Regions from separate parts of the Homo sapiens genome. Here region 1 is linked to region 2. The links come from fine-mapping of genetic effects on gene expression. A gene starts in region 2. The other region holds a variant in brackets. All regions are shown on one strand. Distances are between the middles of the regions. Region 1 has its middle 29 kb from the start of RAB33B-AS1. Region 2 holds the start of RAB33B (RAB33B, member RAS oncogene family).

What was found. PIP is the estimated chance that this variant, and not a neighbour inherited with it, causes the effect. A credible set is the group of variants that fine-mapping cannot tell apart.
Region 1: its variant is the best candidate, but not a certain one, in a credible set for the expression of RAB33B in whole blood (TOPMed, PIP 0.62).

What each region holds. Positions count from the first base shown.
Region 1 is chr4:139,422,806-139,427,201 of GRCh38, reverse strand. It overlaps the pseudogene LOC100421868. Among named protein-coding and RNA genes, the nearest start is that of RAB33B-AS1, 29 kb to the left of the region's middle. The variant A/G (reference allele first, on the strand shown) is at 2,408.
Region 2 is chr4:139,451,978-139,456,373 of GRCh38, reverse strand. It overlaps RAB33B (RAB33B, member RAS oncogene family), which reads right to left and starts at 2,253. Exons shown (of 2, transcript NM_031296.3): 1 at 1,930-2,253. The coding sequence starts at 2,178. It overlaps RAB33B-AS1 (RAB33B antisense RNA 1), which reads left to right and starts at 2,333. Exons shown (of 1, transcript NR_159964.1): 1 at 2,333-4,396. RefSeq lists enhancers at 1,956-2,005, 2,626-2,965 and a silencer at 2,226-2,555.

The DNA of each region.
Region 1 (4,396 bases), 29 kb after region 2:
GATGGTGATGGCCTTGTGTTAACTGCCTGCAGCTGATGAACGTGGTGGGGAACATGCTGCATTTCCTACCTGCCTTTGTGTGCAGGTGAAGCAACCAGTCTCGAAGCACTACGCAGGAGTGATGATGATCTGCGACACCTGCATCTACTCAGGCAGCCTGCTGAGCCCCAGCCATAGCTGGATCTGTGACGAGCTCACGGGCAGCAGGGGTCTGACACAATGGGGACCTACATCGTGGACCTGCTGACCCACCCGACCTTCTGGAGAGATGAGAAGTTGCACACACTGTCAAGACATACATGAGGCAGAGTGCCACCATCTGTGGCATCCAGCATGTCACCATTGATGACTTCTGTTTCAAAAAAAAAAAAAAAAAACTACCTGCCGAAACAGGATTCAACACTGTGTAAAAGAAGGAAACAACTTCACAACATCAAGATACTAAGCAATGTAGCAGTTACAACTATACAATAAAAAATTACTAGACACATGAAGATTCAACAAAATATGATCCATACCAGAAGAAAAATCAGTCAATAGAATCAGAAATGACAGAGATCATGGAATTAGCACAAAAAAAACCATTAAAACAGCTATTACTAATATAATTAAGAATTTACAAGAAAATATGAACATAAGAAAAAATGAAGATATGAAAAACAATGAAATGCAGCTTTTAGACTTATGTAATGCAATATCTGAAAAAAATTTAAATCACTGTAGGAGCTTAAAGCAAATTTAATGTAGAAGAAAAGATTGATGACCTTGAAGACATAGCAATAGAAGCTATTCAAGCTGTAGCACACAGAGAAAAATACACCAAAAAGCCAAACTGCTATGAGTGTCTGCAGAAATAAACTTCAGTAGATGTGTAACTCCAAGGACTGTAGGTAGTGGAATTGACAGATATGAAAAGTATAGAATTTCTGTGTTCTGAATATTTTAAAAGGTAAAGGATGTTATAAAGATGAGCAAGAGATTACCAGGAATGGACAGACAGGTTGGAAGGTAGTTGGGAGATGGGGAGATGCTCTAGAAATATAAAATATAATTGTTAGAATAACAAAACTCAGTGGAAAGGTTAAAGAGCAAATTTGATACAGATGAAGAGAGAATTAATAAATGAAGCCACTGAGGTGGCTCATGCCTATAATCCCAGCACTTTGGGAGGCCGAGGTGAGACGATCACTTGAGGCTAGGAGTTCAAGACCAACCTGGACAACATGGTGAGACCCTGTCTCTACAAAAAAGTTTAAAAATTAGCTGGGCATGTTAGTGTATGCCTGTAGTCCTAGCTACTCAAAAGGCTAAAGCAGAGCATGACTTGAGCCCAGGAGTTTGAGGCTTCAGAGTGCTATGATTATGCCACTGTGCTCCAGCTTGGGCGACTGAGGGAGACCTTGTCTCTTAAAAAATAAATGAGAAGATATCTTTAAAAATTACCCAGGGTATACTAAGGAGAGACAAGGAAGTAAAAATATGAAAACAATATTAAGAGATGGAAGCTTGGATAAGAAAGTCACACATATGACTAATTGAAATCTCAGAAAGAAAGAAAAGAAGGAAAAAAGTAGAGGCAATACTCCCTGCCCCCTAATATTTTGTGAAATTGTTCAAACATACAGAAAAGTTGAAAGAATTACACAGTGAACTTTTACATTTACCAATTAATTCTAGAACATTTTGTTATATTTACTGTATCATATAGCTATCCACTTAACCATCCATCAATCCTATTTTTTATGCATTTCAGAGTAAGTTGTAGACATCACCACTAAACATTTTAGTATGTTCATCATTAGTATTCAGTATTGTTCTATAGCTTTTTTGTATTTAAAATGTACATACAATAAAATGCACAGATCTTAAGTACAATATTTGGTAAATTTTTACAAGTGCATATACCTGTGTAACACAAACTGTCAAAAAAAACCATATACTGCTCTTCAGAAAATTCCCTTATGCCCCTTGCTAGTCAATCCCTGCCCTTTACCTCCCACTGGTAAGAAGTGTTCTAATGAGAGGTATCATTTAGATAAATAGTGCTGTGATTTTTGCAGAAATGATGAAAAAAATGAATTAACAGATCTGGGAGTCACAAGATAATGAAAGCAGGATACATAAACAGAAATGTATAATGACATTGTATAAAGAACCTGCAGAATTTGTAAGATCTTACAAGCAGCTAGAAAGGGCAGATCACTTGCAAAAGAACAGCAGTGAAAATGACAGTGGATTTATTATCAGCATCAATGGAAACCAGAAGTTAATGGAATAATACCTTTCAAGTGCCAAAAGATAATGGTCAACTAGAATTATGTACTTGCCCAGACTACCTTTTAAGAAGAGTGAAATAGAGACATTTAAAGATAAGTGATAATTGAGAGTTTAGCTCAGAGATATGCAC[A/G]AAACTCCTAAATGACATATAGTCATGCACTACATGACAAAGTTTTGGTCAATAACAGACCGCATATACAATGGTGGTCCCATAAGATTATATTGGCTGAGTATTGCTAATCCAAAAATCCAAAATCCAAAATACTCCAAAATTTGAAACTTTTTGAGTGCCAACATGATACTCAAAGGAAAGGTTCCTTGGAACATTTCTTTGGATTTTCAGGTTAGGGATGCTCAACACTAAGTATCATGCAAATATTCCAAAATAAAAAAAAAATTCAAAACCAAAATTTTCTTGTCCTAAGGATTTAGGATTAGGGATACGCAACCTGTAATACTGTATTTTTACTGGACCTTTTCTATGTTTAGATATACAAATACATACTCGTATTACAGTTGCCTATTCAGTACAGTAATATGCTATACAGGTTTGTAGCCTAGGAGCAAAAGGCTATGCCATATAGTCTAAATATGTAGTAGGCTATACCATCTAGGTTTGTGTAAGTACAGTCTGTGGTTTGCACAATGATGAAATCACGTAAGGACACATTTCACCTTTCTCAGAATGTATCCCATCATTAAGTGATGTGTGACTGTAGTTGAGAGATAGTATTTCACAGGAGTTAAGAATATGCACTTTGGAGACTCCATAGGTGTGAATCCCTATTCCACCATTTGCTAGCTGTGGAACACTGGACAAGTGAGTTAACACCTCTGTGCTTCAGTTTTTTTTCTCACTTGTAAAATTTTGACAATAATTGTATTCATGGAATTGTTATGAGGATTAAATGAACTAATATAAAATAAAGCACTTAGAACCAAACCTGGAATATAAGTGCTTTGTTAAGTCAGAGCTTAAAAAAAGGAAATTATCATAAAAGAATGGTCTGAAGTACAAAATAGAATGGTGAGTGAATAAAATGGTGAACAAGCTTGTCAGTCCAAACATCAGTCTAGAAAAATAAGGTCCGATTTGTGAAGTTTTGAACTAATGCCTCCAATAACAATAGCAAGTAGGCATTTGGGGGAGGGTCAATGTAATTAAAATTATTCTAAGATCATTACTTCGTTTCAAAGGAAAGTTAAGATATGTTTGCCTTTACATTTTGTTAAGTTAGACACTTATAAAATGCAGGGACAGTTGTTAAAAAAAAAAGGAATAAATACAGAGCTATGAATTCCAATTCAGTGGAGGAAAAATGGAATTTAAAAAATCTAACCATAAAGTCAGTTTTTTAAAAATGCAGAAACAGCCAGCGCCGTGGCTCACGCCTGTAATCCCAGCACTTTGGGAGGCTGAGACGGGCAGATCACGAGGTCAGGAGATCGAGACCATCCTGGCTAACACGGTGAAACCCCGTCTCTACTAAAAATACAAAAAATTAGCCAGACATGGTGGCGGGCGCCTGTAGTCCCAGCTACTTGGGAGGCTGAGGCAGGAGAATGGCATGAACCCGGGAGGCAGAGCTTGCAGTGAGCCGAGATCACGCCACTGCACTCCAGCCTGGGCGACAGAGCGAGACTCCGTCTCAAAAAAAAAAAAAAATGCAAAAACGTTGGGGCTATAAAAATAGTAGCTCAGAAAAAGCAAGGCAAATATAAACAAAAAAGATATATAAACAAATCCAACTATATCAAGAATCACAATAAACATAAATGTATGACATTTACCAATTAAAAGATAGAGTTTGTCAGACTGAAATGAAAAGAAAAATCTAGCTGTATGACATATACAAGAATCTGAAAACATACAGGCAAAACAGTAGAAGATAAGAGATAGAAAAACATATACCAGGCAGATCTTAATACAAAGAATTCACATACATACATTAATTTCAGAAAAAAGATTTTAAGACAAAAAAAGATTATTAGAATAAAAAGGTCATTACCTACTGATAAAAGGTTTTTTTCACCAGAAAAAAAACAGAAAAATTCTAATCCTGTTTGTAACTAATAAAATGGACTTAAGCTATATACAGCAAAAAATGTTAGAACTACA
Region 2 (4,396 bases):
CAGATAAAGGGCCCTCAAATCCCAACTCCTCCCCCACCCTCATTCTCTCCACTTTTGAAAGAATTTCCTACTTCCGTTTTTGTTTTTGTTTTGTTTTTTAAATTTCTCTCCCCTTAGCTGTCTACCTATGCCCTCCACTATCTCTGCTTTCAACTTTGGGTGTACAACTGCAGAACTAATGGTGGCAAACAGGAAAAATAATGTTAAGCCACCAGGAAAGACAAAGAATCTTTTTAAAGGCACCAACTATGAACCAGGTGCTTCATATATGTCCTCATCTGATCCTCACAGCAGCCTGATAAGGTATCATGATCCCAGTTTTTCGGAAGAAAAATACAGACTCTGAGAGGTTAAAGAATCTGCCTAAGGTCCAGGGTGACCAACTATTTTGGTGTGCCCAATACAGGGGGTCCCCGGGATGTGAGACCCAGTTTTAAAACCTGGACAGTCTTGGGCAAAGTTGGTCACCCTAGTAAGGACACGCAGCCCATCCCTACCCTTTCGTAGGTTCAGATATGAATCCAGGTTAGTTGGGCTCCAAAGCCCACGTACTTCCCAGATTCCTGCTTCTCCCAATCTTAACTCCCTTGGAACTTCAGAAGCTCCATTATTTTTCACCCCAAAGGCTTCTGGGCCAAACCTAATTCTGGTGAAAAATGTTTAGCCTTTTATTCTATCTTTTCTTCTGCAAGTATACAAATCTTTCTAAATTCCCTAATACAAAGCAACTCCAAAACCACCACTGAGAGCTCATATGGGACATGAAATACTAATGTGAAAAATTAAAAGACAGAAGCACCAAAGAAAGGTTAATTTCTTTTAACCCAGCTTACTTCACCTCTACCATCATTAGCAGTATAACCCGTTGGGGTGGGGGGCGATGATTAGGGAACTGAAAAATAAATTGTTCTTGCCTCTAAGATACGAGGGTAGGAACGTCTAAAGCAAGCCTGTTCTCCCACCACTCCCCATCCCCACCAAGAGACTGAGATAAAGACGATCGCTGATTTAAAGCAGTAGTATAAGGCAAGGTGGTTCCACCTATGTTTTAAGGAGTGGCATCAACAGGTGGCATTTAGTGGTGGCTTGCTATGAAGGTGTGTCTAAGGTTTATACCATCAAGAGGCCTAAGCCTTGTCATTGATCCTCATTCCACTGTTAGATTCCAACCCCTCAGAACTTCAAACCTGCCCTGGGGCCTATACTACCTTCTCCACTATTACTGTCACTCAGTGTCCCCAGTCCCAGGGACCAAAAATAACGACTTAAAGGGAATAAAGAATTGGGCGTGTGTCTGAGGTGGCATCATGAGAAATGCTTTTGGCAACCTGAGTAGGAACTATCACATATAGAATGTTTCTGCAGGAAAATAGATTTTTCTAAAATCAGTATCATAAAGAAACTACTACAGCAAAACTGTATGCAAGAGAATACCTAAGTACTTCCTCAAAGGCAATAGGCTTTACTTCCACAACATCTAAGGCACTGCTCGAATGAATGTTTAATAACTATTACTGATTAAATGAATTTTCCATTCTCGCGCAATTTCACTGTTTTTCCTCCGTTCATATTTGACTGACTCCCAGCACACGACACACACAGTAAATGGGTCGGTAGATAAGCCCTACACTCCTGAACTCAAAGTGTGGTCCACGGACTAGCTGCACCTGCATCATCAGCGAGATTATTAAATCATAGCCTGCATTTTCAAAAACAAGATCCCCAGGTAAATCGCATGCACAATGAAGTCTGAGAAACGCTGCCTTAGAAGTTTGCAGTATTGCAATCCTTCCAATCCCCAACTCCAATCTCATCAGCGTGAGAAAAAAATGGAGCGCACACACACCGTGCACACGGCCAGCGACCAGCCCACGGTGGGGTTGGGACACCTGTCACCCTGTCCTCCCCAACAGTTCCCCATCCGCTCACCTTGATGCGCTCCCCATCAATCTCCACCGCTCGTTCTCGGAAATCCACCCCTATCGTGGCCTCGGTGCGGTCGGGGAAGCGGCCAGCGCAGAAGCGGTAGGTCAGGCATGTCTTGCCCACATTGGAGTCGCCGATCACGATTATCTTGAAGATGCGGGAGCGGGCAGGAGGCAAAAACCCTGAGGCCCCTGACACTGCCCCGCTGGACGAAAAGCTTGCCTCGAGCGACGACTCCATCTCCTCAGCCATTCCCCCGACCCGCCCCAAACTGAGGCGGAGGAAAGGAGACACAGAAAGGCTGAGAGATTACGCCACCGCAAGAGCGCGCGCCCAGCCGGCCAGTTCGGCTGCGCAACTTCCCAGGAGCCACCGCCCACCAGCCCCGAGCGCGCCTGCGCACCTTCCCGCCCCGCCCTTGCCCGCACAGGTGTGGCACCCGCCCGCCCCGCCGCACGGAGCCGCCTGCCCGCGGCCACACGCCAGGCGTCACTCGGGCTGGCGCCGGTCTACCTAGGCAGGCGTGGGACCTGTCGGGGGCTTCACGGCAGCGCGGAAGGCCAGCCTGCAGAGAGGCTGGGCCCAGCGCCCTGACTGACCCAGCCCCGCCACGTCCAAGGTTCCCGCCCTCTGGAGGAAGCCGCGCAATCACTCCGGGGGCGGGGAGAGACAGACAACTGAGAGGAAGGAGGTACCACGGGCACTCTCTCGCGAGAGGGCCGCAGAGCCGCCTTTGACGGGGGCGTGTACCTGGAGAGCAACGGTAAGGACGGAGCCGACGGCTCCGGCGTCGGGTCGGTTCCGGCATCGACGTATCGTTTGGTCGCCCCAGAGAGGAGACAGGTTTCTTCAGCTTGCCGCTGAGGATGTGGCATCGGCTGCGCTCACCGCCGCCGCCTCTGTGAACTGCGGGAGTTGGGACAGCGGCCAGGGCTAGATGGGTGGGACGCGAGTCCTCGCCGAAAGCTTGCCCTGTGCGGGGCGCACTTGGAGGCGAGCTCTGGGCCGTGGCGAGTTTTGCAGCCTAAGGTCTTGGCAGGCGCATTGCTGTGGGCTGCCGGAGAGCAGGCTGGAGTTCGAGACCGCCCACCGGAGAGCAGGCGAGAGTTCGAGGCCTAGGTACAGCGCATTTCGCTAGGCATCCCCAAGAATATCCGCGTGATCCTTGTGGCCAGAGTTTGTTGAGCTAATATCCCCAGCCCAAACAGTAGAGCACATCACATGTCGGCCACCTGGGAGCGTTGAACCTGGTAGTTACTAGGCGCCCCTGGTGGAAATAAAACTCATTATGCCCTAGTTATGTCTTAGTGCCTGGGTGACGATGATGTAGCGGTTAAAGATTAACTGAGCGCACTTAGAGGTTGTCTTTGTCTACCTAAGGAAAATATCAATAGATTAAACCCCCAACCTTAAAGAATCTCCGTGAATTTTTCTGAGGAAACGTGCAATATTGTCATACAAAAGGCCCCAAATATGCAAACATTGCTTTTTGTTAAAAGTTTGTTTTGTTTTGCAGTGACATCTGTTTGAGCAGATGAATATGCCATTGGGAAAGTCAAGGACTGTCGGAGAGGAGGACATGGCAGACCTTAACTAAAGTGAGGGGGACAGTAGAGCACTAAAAGTTCTAGGAAAGGAGATGAACTGCTTATTCCATCAGATGAAAATATAGTCAGAACAGATGAGTAGTAGAACTTAAACATGCCCGGAGTTGCCAGGAATTTGCAAAAGCCTTGATATAATTCCTGTTGCTGTAGAAAGACTTTCTACAGTCACTAATATATCAAGTTATGTTCACTAGAAAAAAAGTTTACTTAGTTTATAGAAATGGGCTGAAAAATCCTAATTACTTATCTGTGAGGTTATTTTCATGAAGGTTAATCATCCAGAAACTATTAGAGAGCCTCGGAATATATTTCTTCTAATCTGCTCTACCTATCCCATTCAAAGGAGGGAATCTGAAGATTTAAGGACAAAGAGCAGTTGAAAACTCAGAGCTGTGGTTAATGGGAGAATTTCAAGGATGGTGAAAAAAACTAACATCATTGCATCCCTGTTTTTTGTATTCTGGACTTTTTAGTTTAGCTCTTGGTAAACTACATCAGAAATTCTTTATGCTAACTCTAACACACATTTTGGGGTATTGCTAATTTAATCTTTGAATACTGTTTTTGCTGTTTCATGATTATATGTTATGTCCTACCAGCTAGATTGCCAACTCTTGACTACTGACTGGAAGTTTATTGTTTATTCAGCAAATAATGAATTAAGTCAGTGAAGTGAGAGATTTCGTGTGTAAGGATTGTTAACTTGAACATTTCACCAGTTACACACAGTTCAGCCCTACTTAAATTTTAAAAATCATTGTTGGCACTTGACATTGTTATGAGGAGTTTTGTATTTTCAACTTGTATTTTGAGAGTGTCCTCATGTGACTGAAGTATGTGCTACTCTTCTTAATTGAATAACC